Homo sapiens: one gene and its partners. The protein of the gene in region 2 purifies or fractionates together with the protein of the main gene of each other region. This does not show direct contact. Each region holds a gene or a part of one and is shown on either strand. Other genes may lie near its edges. The genes, in order: METTL9, FAM20B and TMEM59.

Region 1 (3,733 bases), on a different chromosome or scaffold from region 2:
CTAGAGAAAAGAGGGAAAAGAGTGGTCCTTGTGATGTCGGTTAATATGCATTAAAGTAGATTCGTACTTATGTCAGTTTATATGGTTACAACTGTCTGGGTCCTATTATTTCTAAAGGTCCTAGAAAACACTCAAAACCATAGTGATGCCTTTGAAAAAAGAGACTGAGGGGAGTTTAACTGGAGATTGAAGAGAACCCTCAGAAAAGCAACTATAGGTCCAGCCAAGTCTCATGGAAGCATCACTCTGGGAAATAAAGCGCAATCCCTATTTAGGACTTGTTTTCTAGCTCTGAAATTCTAGTTTATCTAGGACAGGGATTCTCAACCCTCCTTTAAGCAGCAGAACCCTTTCTTTAAATGAAGTGGAACTCACAGATAACATAAGATCCTAAGAGAGCTGCTGCTGTTCGAATGAGGTTGGGAGCCCAGGAGCTGTGGCCAGCCCACTTCTAGGCCTTTCTCTGCAGCCTGAAGCAGTTCCTGAGGCACTTCCTCCTCAGACCCTAGAAAACAGTTTGGGGACCACTGGTCCAGGAAGTGGCAGGGAAACCTGTTCTGTACTGCTGCTCTCTGGAAACAATCATAAGGTACAGAATGTTTGCTGCTATACAGTGACTGGAAAGATGCATGCAACACGGTGCCCAAGGTAAGACCAGTTTTAGGAAAAAATACAAATAATGGAGTTCATGTAACAAAGTCCCCCTTCCTTTTCCCATTAAGGCCATAGGAGAGTTTAACCAAGTTTACAGTAAATCTTCTGCCCCCATAGAAATGCTAAAAATTTGGAGAAAGACCTCAGAGACCACTAAACGTGATGCTACCGACTACAACTGCTTACCAAAGAAAATCACGTCTCATAAAAGACAAGTTGTTTTAATCCTCAATTGTTCATATATTACAGTAAGAAAATAAGCAAATCTGAACTTGCTGAAGTAGCTGTACAAAATTTAACACAGAAACCAGTCACAGCAGAAAGAGGCTACTGGCAGCATGGCTGAGGGGAGGCGAATTTCAAATACTGATGCTGACTTGCCACAGGACCAAAAGTAAGTCACAAAATAGTTATTTTGCTTAAATTTTCCCAGAGCGTGCTTCCCAAGCCATCTCCTTGGGATGTGAGGAATCTTGACATGATAATTATAAAATTCTAGAACAAGAGGTCACCTGAGCTCAGAGCTCACAAGTTCATCTGACTGGTCTACATTTATAGGCACTAGAGGCTGGGCATGGTGGCTCACGTCTGTAATCCCAGCATTTTGGGAGGCCGAGGTGGGAGGATCTCTTGAAACCAGGTGTTTGAGACCAGCTGGGCAACATGGTGAAACCCCGTCTCTATAAAAAATACAAAAATTAGCCAGGCACGGTGGCATGAGCCTCTAGTCCCAGCTACCTGGGAGACTGAGGCAGGAGGACTGCCTGAGCCTGAGGAGGTCAAGGCTGCAGTGAGCCATGATTGTGACACTGCACTCCAGCCTAGGCAACAGAGCGAGACCCTGTCTCCAAAAAAGAAAGAAAGAAGGCACTAGAGAAAGAGGGGAAGCATTGTCCTATTTCGAAAGAACATTAGCAACAGGGGCTCTACAAAAAGATTAACACTGTCAAAAAATAAATCAAAATCCATCAAGCCCAGTGTTTATCAACCAGGATTGATTTTGCCCTCTAGGGGGCAATGGGAGTAGACAGGAGAGTTTCCAGTAATCACAAGGACCTGGGGGTACTACTGCCATTTAGTGGGCAAGGCCAGAAAAGTTAGACTTCCTGCAGTGTGGGGGGCAGTCTCGCACAATGAAAAACAGTATCACCTAAAATACTGAGCCCAATACAAAGTTTCCCATAAACACAAACCATGAAGAGATATGACCCTCTAATTTGGGTTTAACTTTAGTGTTTAATAACCATCCTAGGTTCTCTGATCACAATCTAAGTTCTCTCTAGACTTAAGAGTCTACGGAGAGATGCACCTCTTCCTTATAAAATAAACTCTGGAACATCTACTAAGTCTTTCCTTACTTGGCCTTCTCCTTTCCAAAATAAAGGAAGTTTGATAAGTATCCTAAGGTAATACAAGACAGTACTACAGTAATGATTTCTGTGAGAGATGGCCACCTGTAGTAATTATCTCCCACTGCCATGACCGGAAAGTACTGATGGGCCCTAAAATTTAGTTTTTAGCTGAGAATGGGACACAAGGCAAGAAGGACTGAAAGCAGGGTGGGTATCAGAAGGAAAAAGCAGAAGAGTTTTAAGTAAGGGAAGCCAAAAGGGGTTTATTAACTGCATTGCCTCTTTGATCAAACTGTGAAATTCTAGAGCACGGAATTTTAACCAGGGTCTTATGGGTAGAGGAAAGGGGAAATAAAAGTTTGAAGCCCCCAAAATCATACACAAAATGTTGAATGTAAGCACTTTTTGAAGAGAGGATTCCTACCTTTATCACTTTCAAAGAGCTACAGGACCCCAGAAAGGATAAGAATCTCTGCTACAGTGACTCATCTGAATTCCAAAGGAAGAATAAATGGTATAGAACAGAAATTCAATATAACCAATTTAAGGAACAAAATGTCAGACCAAGTTGTATCAACTCAACCACCCATATAAAAATAACAACTGTTTGCCAAAGCAAACGTATGGCAATTTCACATAAACAATGAAGAAAATCAACTGAGAAATCTTGAGAAATGGCTTGCGGTGCCTGAAGACTTAGGACCAGATGATACACTGGGGATCCAGTCAGTCAGTAGAAACTGCTCCAAACCTCAAGGGAAAAGAAAAGTGGGCCCAACCAGTGGTTTGAGTGGTCCAATGAGGCTTCTTAACCATTGAGCCTGTTGCTTTTCTCTTTGGCATTTTAGATTCTAGGTCCTTAGGAATGCTTGAAAACATGGCCAAGAAAGGATTGAAAAAAAAAAAAAACAAAAAAAACTCCTAAAGCTTTTTCTATGGATTTATATGAGGGAACCACTCTGGGGACAGAGAATTCCACAATAAGTTCATAAAATTCTGGTGAACCTAGACATTATTTAAGAACAGATGCAGGACTCTTCACTCAAAATAAGCCATCATCCACTGTTGGGCTGACTAATTATATCTCCCAAAAAAAATTTGCCACTGCGAAGTATGTTTAAGGCAAAGATCTTACTTTTCAGCCTAAGGGCGTAAAGCCCTCAGCTTCAGGGCTTGGTTCCAGGAGTCTTGCTACTTTGTGGTCCAGAACCAGCAGCATTCAGCATCACTGGCATCGTCTAAGAGCTTGTTAAAAATGCAGACTCTCCAGGTGCAGTGGCTCCCACCCATAATCCCAGCACTTTGGGAGGCAAAGGTGGATGGATCACTTGAGGTCAGTTAGAGACCAGCCTGGCCAACATAGAAACCTCGTCTCTACTAAAAATACAAAAATTAGACAGGTGTGGTGGTGCACACCTGTAATCCCAGCTACTTGGGAGGCTGAGGCATGAGAATTACTTAAACCCGGGAGGCGGAGGCTGCAGTGAGCCCAGATTGCCACTGCACTCCAGTCTGGGAAACAGAGCAGGACTGTCTTTAAAAAAAAAAAAAAAAAAAAAAAAAAAAAAAAAAAAGCAGACTCTCAGACCTAGCCCCTGATGTACTAACTCATAATCTGCATTTTAACAAGACCCCCAGGTGATTCCTATGTACATCAAAGCCAAGAAGCACTACCGTAAGTAACTCCCGCTATGAATAAACATACTAATGAGGCTGTCACGTTATGG
Region 2 (3,733 bases):
CAGGTTCAAGTGATTCTCCTGCCTCAGACTCCTGAGTAGCTAGGATTACAGGCACATACCAAAACGCCCGGCTAATTTTTTGTATTTTTAGTAGAGATGGGGTTTCGCCATGTTGGCCAGGCTGGTCTCAAACTCCTGACGTCAAGTGATCCGCCCACCTTGGCCTCCCAAAGTGCTGGGATTACAGGCGTGAGCCACCGTGCCCGGCCATCTCTTTATATACAAATTTTATTTTTGTCTTTAGTTTGCCTTTTTCCATTACTCTGTTTATGCTGCTTATCTCTCAGGCCAAGAAGTCAAAGACCAAACTTCAAAGCTAAATGCGATTTTTGATGATGAGTGCTCCACGTCATCACTTATGGGAAGCAAACAAACTTAGAGAATTCCATGTGTGTGGCAGAATACAAGCTGTTTACAACTCTAACAAATATGGGTTCAAACTTCTGTACCACTGATTGATGTGAGGTGACCTTGTCAAGTTAGTTACACTCTCTGAACCTCAGTTTCTTATTCAGGAAATAAGAACTGAAATTGTCCAAAAAGGTTAAACCTTCGTATAAGGGTTTAAAGGATTAAGAGATACAAAAGTACTTAGTGTAATCCCTGGCAAATAGTGTGCATTACAGAAATTAGATCCCAGGCCCACATAACCACGGTTTTTTTTTGTTTTTTGGTTTTTTTTTTTGAGACAGGTCTCACTCTGTCACCCAGGCTGGAGGGCAGTGGCACGAGCATGGCTTGCTGCGGCCTCAAACTCTCGCACTCAAGCAATCTTCCCATCCTCCCACCTCAGCCTTCCAAGTAGCTGAGACTATAGGTGCACACCACCACGCCCAGCTAATTTTTTATTTTTTTATAGAGACAGAGTCTCACTACATCACCCAGGCTCAAGTGATCCACCCACCTCGGCCTCCCCAAGTGCTGGGATTACAGGCATGAGCCATCACGCCCAGCCCCAGTCAAATTTTTATTCTCTGAAAGTCTACCAAATGTTTTAACTTTCCTAATTTCCACATCACTGACATATATTTCCCAGTTCCAGACCAACAGTGATCCCTTCCATTTCTGGGCTCCCTATACATTCATGCTCTGACTGCCTTTCATTTACTAATAGTTGGGTAAGAAAGGGAGTTGAATTTTGTCCATCTTTTCCCTACATTTCTTCTCCCACTCCAGAAAGAAATCTAAAGTCATGTTATAATTTTTTCAAAAGCTCTACTGAGGAATGAAAAAAATGTTTAGTACCCAAAAGATTTCAGACATTACAAACTTTGAGAATATTCATTGGTAACTAACTCCCGGCAAAAGAATACAAATCACCATCATGATGTTAACCTAATTCAGATTCATACACTCAGAAAACATTTTTAGAAAATTAACTATACCCTCCAAGCTGTCTTGTGTAGAGAAATAAATAAATAAATAAAAATAATTAACTGTATCACAGAATTGTCACACAAATTATCTCTGTAGATCCCTAGGAAGTCCAAAGGGATCATGAACAACATACATATTTAGTTAACTAAGGTAACTAAAATGGCCCAATTCTTTACTTAAAACAGGTGAAAGAAATAAGAGATCTATTAGAACAGCTATGATCTGAAACACTGATGCCAAACCCTGGTGAGGATGTGGAGCAACAGGAATTCTCATGCATTGCTGGTAGAAACACAAAATGGTACAGCTACTTTGGAAGATAGTTTAGCAGTTTTTTACAAAATGAAACGTACTCTTACCATGTGGTCCAGCAATTATGCTTCTGGTATCTATCCAAATGAGTTGAAAATTTATGTCCACACAAAAACCTGCACATGGATGTTTATAGCAGCTTTATTCACAATTGCCCCAAACTTGGAAGCAACCAAGATGTCCTTCAGTAAGTGAATGGATAATTAAGCTGTGGTACATCTAGACAATGGAATATTATTCAGTGATAAAAACAAATGAACTATCATGCCACAAAAAGATATGTATAAACCTTAAATGCACTTTACTAAGTGAAAGAAGCCAATCTGAAAGGGCTTACATTCTGTGATTGCAACTATATTACATTCAGGAAAAGGCAAAACTACGGAGATAGTAAAAAGACCAGTGGGTTACCAGGTGTTCTGGGGCAGAGAGGGAAAAATGAGTAGGTAGAACACAGAGGATTTTTAGGGCAGGAAGACTATTCTATATGATACTATAAAGGTAGATTCATGTTAAGTGCTAGAAAAGACTTTAGAGATCTAGTCTACCCCTCTTATTTTACTGAAGAGACTTCCAAGAGAAGATGACAAAATAAATCTTATATAAATCCCAAGTTAAATGAATCAACCAACTAGCACATGCAGCTTCCAAGATCAAAACTTACCGCTTAGGTTTGAAAACAACTTTCTGGCCTCCTTCAAGTATCAGTAAGGCTTTCAGCTGTGTCCCTTTATAACCCACATCAGCTTTAATGATTTTCTTGGTGGCCATGGCATGCATGACTGCCCCCAGCTCTGGTGTCTCTTCAGGGTACACTTCCCGGGGAACCACCCACTGGGCTGCAATCTCCCAGGGAGACTGCAAGGTATGGTCCAGCTTGGGTGCCAGCTCCACCCGCAAGCCAGTCATCATTCGGTGAAAGGCCCTCTGGTCCTCCCGGTTGGCAGCTGATGTATCTAAGTTGTCAATCAGGAAAACTTTGGTGAAGATAAAAATGACAAGGAGAATTGCTAACAGCACGACTCGCTGCTTTAGCTTCATGTTGACCTCTTTTCCTTCTCCCCTGACCCACTCTTGCTCATGTATTAAGGAGAGCTGGTGGTGATGGTTAGCAAGGAGATTCCATGATTATACACATTGGTCCATTTCTTCACTGATGCACCTTCCACAGTTCCTGCAAGCCCAAGTACAAAGCAAAATTTGATCAAAAATTCTGTCCTTCCACCCCTGAATCTTTTGTAAGCCTCTAATATATGACTCACCCTTTTAGGCTTTCTATTCTTGAGCTCAAGAAGGTTCAATAATTTAAAATTAACTAATCTGGAGAAGGACCTAATGATGGCAGCAGTGGCCCAACTGGAGCAGCTGCTGCGAAGACACCAGCTGCAGTGGGAGAGGCATGGCCAGGGCTGCACACTCCACGGAGCTGGAAGGAGCTGGGAACAGGTGGGAGCCCTGCCCTCTTCCAAGATGGTGGAGCAGGGGCCCCGTGTTCCTGGGTACAGCTGCAGCCACCCAGCCACAGCTACACCCACAGGCTCCAAAATGCCACTCCTGCTGCCTGGCCTCTCCCCACTCCCCGCACCCACTCTGGGGTGGAGCAAAATTGTGGCAAAGCCCAGGTGATGTCGTGACCTGTATATATGTGGTTGGGGCAGTGCTGATACACCAGGCCCCTGCTGTCTCAGCCCACTCCGGACTTTGGGCACCAATGAGCATGGGAGGGAGGCCAAGGGAGGACTGAGGATGGCTCAGTGTAGGCCTGCAGGCATCCCTTGGTACAAACAGCTTGGGCACTGTGGATGACATGAATGGTGGCAGGAGGCAGGCTCCTGGGCGGAAAGGGATGGGTCCCCAGTGAAGCCCCACCTTCAAGCCAGGGATGGCCTGAAGCATGGGGGCTGGGCTGTCGGTTCTGGTTAAGAGTCCGCAAACCACAGTGAGAACTTATGGTGCTTTTTCTGGGCCCACCCATGGCCACCCATGGGCCAATCAGCACACACTTCCTCTCTTCTGAGCTCATAAAAACCCTGCACTCAGCCAG
Region 3 (3,024 bases), about 130 Mb from region 2:
TCAGAAATCCCTGTGGTGCATCATGAGGCAATCTGAGCTGCTGATCAGCAGAAAACCCTGCACTGTCTGAGCTTATCTTCCAGCCAAAGGCAAACAATTTACCCTTTGTTATTAGTCTGTCTGGATTTGTCTTAGATAAATGAGCCATTTTTGTTACAAGTTTTTTAAAGATATACAGTAGTTCCATTATAATTTTTGTGGACTCAAATATCAAGTCCACATGTAGGGAATCATTGACAGAGATTTCCAGTTACTGTCACCACCACACCAAGGCAGTAATTTTGCTCAGTTCTGCCTTTATAGATCCACAATTTAACCATTCAACAACCACCTGAGATCCTGAGTGGCAGGCCCTATGCTAAATGCTAGGACCACAGTAAGACCCAGTGCCTGACCCCAATTGCTGAGACTCTGAAGGAGACTATTATTAATGTGATAAGTGCTATGACCAAGCACAGAGCACATAGGAGGAGCTGTATGCATTATGGGAGCACACAGGAGGACTTCTGGGAGAAAGTGATAGCCAAGCTTAAACCTGGAGAAAAAGGGAACGCCAAACACAATATAGAGAGCAGTGTACCAGACAGTGGGGACACTGTGCTCAAAGACCTAGAGGCCAGAGGGTGAGGCACTGCAGATTGTTGAGTAGGCCGAGATAGAGCATACAAAAGCATAACAAAAGATGGGGCTAGGCAGACCAGGTAATAAACCTGCACTTTAAACCTGCACTTGATCCTGAGCACAGTAGAGAGCCACTGAAAGATTTTAAGCAAGAGAGTGCCATACAGTGTTGGAATGATTCACTCGGACAGCAATGTGGAAGATAGACCAGAAAGGGCAAGTCCAGAGGCCAACAATAATCTTAGCCTCAGAGTTCTTTTTTTAATACCCAAGAATACTATTTCATTTTACTTATATTTTTAAACTTTTCTCTATAACGCTCTCTCTGCTCCCCCACATTGTTGTCTGGATGGTAAACCTAGGACTGGTCTCTGAGTCCTGGTCACAGCCTGGCAACAGAATGTTTGAGCAAACTGGGAAGGCTGCCCCATGGATCCCTGGTTTCTTATCACCATCCTCTTAATTCTACGTTTGCCAACCAGTCTCTAGGAAGCCAGCGTGCTCTTGCGCCCCTCCCACCAGGTTTCCAGTTGCTAAGCGTGTCATGTTTGCATTTGGGTATCATCTGCATGAGTGACCATTTTAATCTCTCTTTCCTTGACTACTTGTTCTACACTAGAGTCTAGGGTGGGGGTGAGTACAGTGGTAAAGACAGGGATAGCGGGAAATTTAGTCTTCTGTTTAGGAAGCTGGATGGTAGTGTGGATTTTCTAACTCCTTGTGGTAATTAAATTCTGGAGCACAGTTTTTAGACCTTTTCTGAAATCTGTTACTGTTGAAGTCAGCTTCATATATTTCACTTTTTTTTTTTTTGAGACAGAGTCTCACACTGTTACTCAGGCTGGAGTGCACTGGTACAATCTTGACTCACTGCAACCTCCACAGCTCCCAGGTTCAAGCGATTCTCGTGCCTCAGCCTCCCAAGTAGCTGGTACTACAGGCGCGTGCCACCATGCTTGGCTAATTTTTGTATTTCTAGTAAAGATGGGGTTTTGCCATGTTGCCCAGGCTGGTCTCGAACTCCTGGCCTCAGGTAATCTGCCCGCCTCAGCCTCCCAAAGTGTTTGGATTGCAGGCATGAGCCACTGCACCCACCCTATTTCACTATTAAGTACTCTCTTCCTGTGATATTAATGACTTATTTGTTTCAAACTTTTTTGTGCCATTGAGCTTTTTAGTGATCCAGTGAAGCCTGTGGACCCCCTCTCATAGTAATGTTTTCAAAGCATAAAACTAAATATAAAGGATCGCAAAGGAAACTGATCATGTTAAAATAAAGTTGATATTTTCAAAGTTTTATGATCCAGTAACATACATATTCTGTTAACACAAAATAAGACTGCATGGTGGTTCTAAAATTACTATAATTCAAATTCATATCTTGAAATATCTAACAACTGTAATATATCTAAATGTCTCATTTCTATTGGTGACAAAGTCACAGGTACTCTGATCCTACTGTGGACTGTTTCCTATATTCGTAATTGAAGGAAATGTTATATTTCAGTTAGAAGTTGGTGAAAAGAAAGATTTAAAATTTTTCCCATCCAAGTTCACCAGACCCCTGGTTTAGAGGTTGTCTTAATTTTACTTTTGTCATTTTAAGAGTAAATTATTTTGTTTTCTTGTTCAATTCTCAATTATTTGGGCTTATTTTACTGCCTCTTGCATGCTTTTTTATGCTTGAATGGTTTTTGCAGTGTTAGAACAGTAATAATTGAAGACTTGGGTGGAAAAAAATCAGCACCTGATTGAAAATGAAAGGTTTCAACAAAAGCTCTTGATAATGTTACCTCCAGGTGTACCATCATGCCACCATTATTGGTGCTACAAATCTGTTAATTTATTTATGCTTAAGTATGTAAACTTTAATAAAACTTGGATCATCTGCATTAAAAAATAATGCTATCTTGTAAAAGTGTCTACTTAGGTAATTCACAATGGGGTGGGTTTGTTGATTCCCCATGACATTTGCAAAGCCCTTTGTAGCACTCTCACCTATCACCTTAAATGGATTCTTATAACATCCATCTAGTGGATTAAAGACTTAAATATAAAACCCAAAACTACAAAAACCCTGGAAGACAACCTTCAGAATGGGAGAAAATATTTGCAAACTATGCATCTGACAAAGGTCTAATATCTAGCATCTATAAGGAACTTAAACAAATTTACAAGAAAAAAACAACCCCATTAAAAAGTGGGCAATGGGCATGAACAGACACTTCTCAAAAGAATATATACATGCTTCCAACAAGCATATGAATAAAAGCTCAACATCACTGATCAAAATATTTGCAAACTATGCATCTGACAAAGGTCTAATATCTAGCATCTATAAGGAACTAAATTTACAAGAAAAAACAACCCCATTAAAAAGTAGGCAATGGGCCGGGCGCGGTG

Evidence for each region.
Region 1: the proteins of FAM20B (region 2) and METTL9 purify together in Homo sapiens (affinity purification with mass spectrometry; one large-scale study listed by BioGRID and IntAct). This does not show direct contact.
Region 3: the proteins of FAM20B (region 2) and TMEM59 purify together in Homo sapiens (co-immunoprecipitation; one large-scale study listed by IntAct). This does not show direct contact.

Annotation. Positions count from the first base shown.
Region 1 is NC_000016.10:21,613,016-21,616,748, reverse strand, and holds part of METTL9 (protein-L-histidine N-pros-methyltransferase isoform 1 precursor), read right to left. Parts: intron 1-3,733. UniProt on the Homo sapiens protein: Protein-histidine N-methyltransferase that specifically catalyzes 1-methylhistidine (pros-methylhistidine) methylation of target proteins.
Region 2 is NC_000001.11:179,042,845-179,046,577, reverse strand, and holds part of FAM20B (glycosaminoglycan xylosylkinase), read right to left. Parts: intron 2,864-3,733; 5' UTR 2,731-2,863; coding exon 2,354-2,730; intron 1,806-2,353; coding exon of another isoform or gene 1,737-1,805; intron 1-1,736. UniProt on the Homo sapiens protein: Responsible for the 2-O-phosphorylation of xylose in the glycosaminoglycan-protein linkage region of proteoglycans thereby regulating the amount of mature GAG chains.
Region 3 is NC_000001.11:54,026,181-54,029,204, reverse strand, and holds the end of TMEM59 (transmembrane protein 59 isoform 2 precursor), read left to right. Parts: 3' UTR 1-2,524; downstream 2,525-3,024.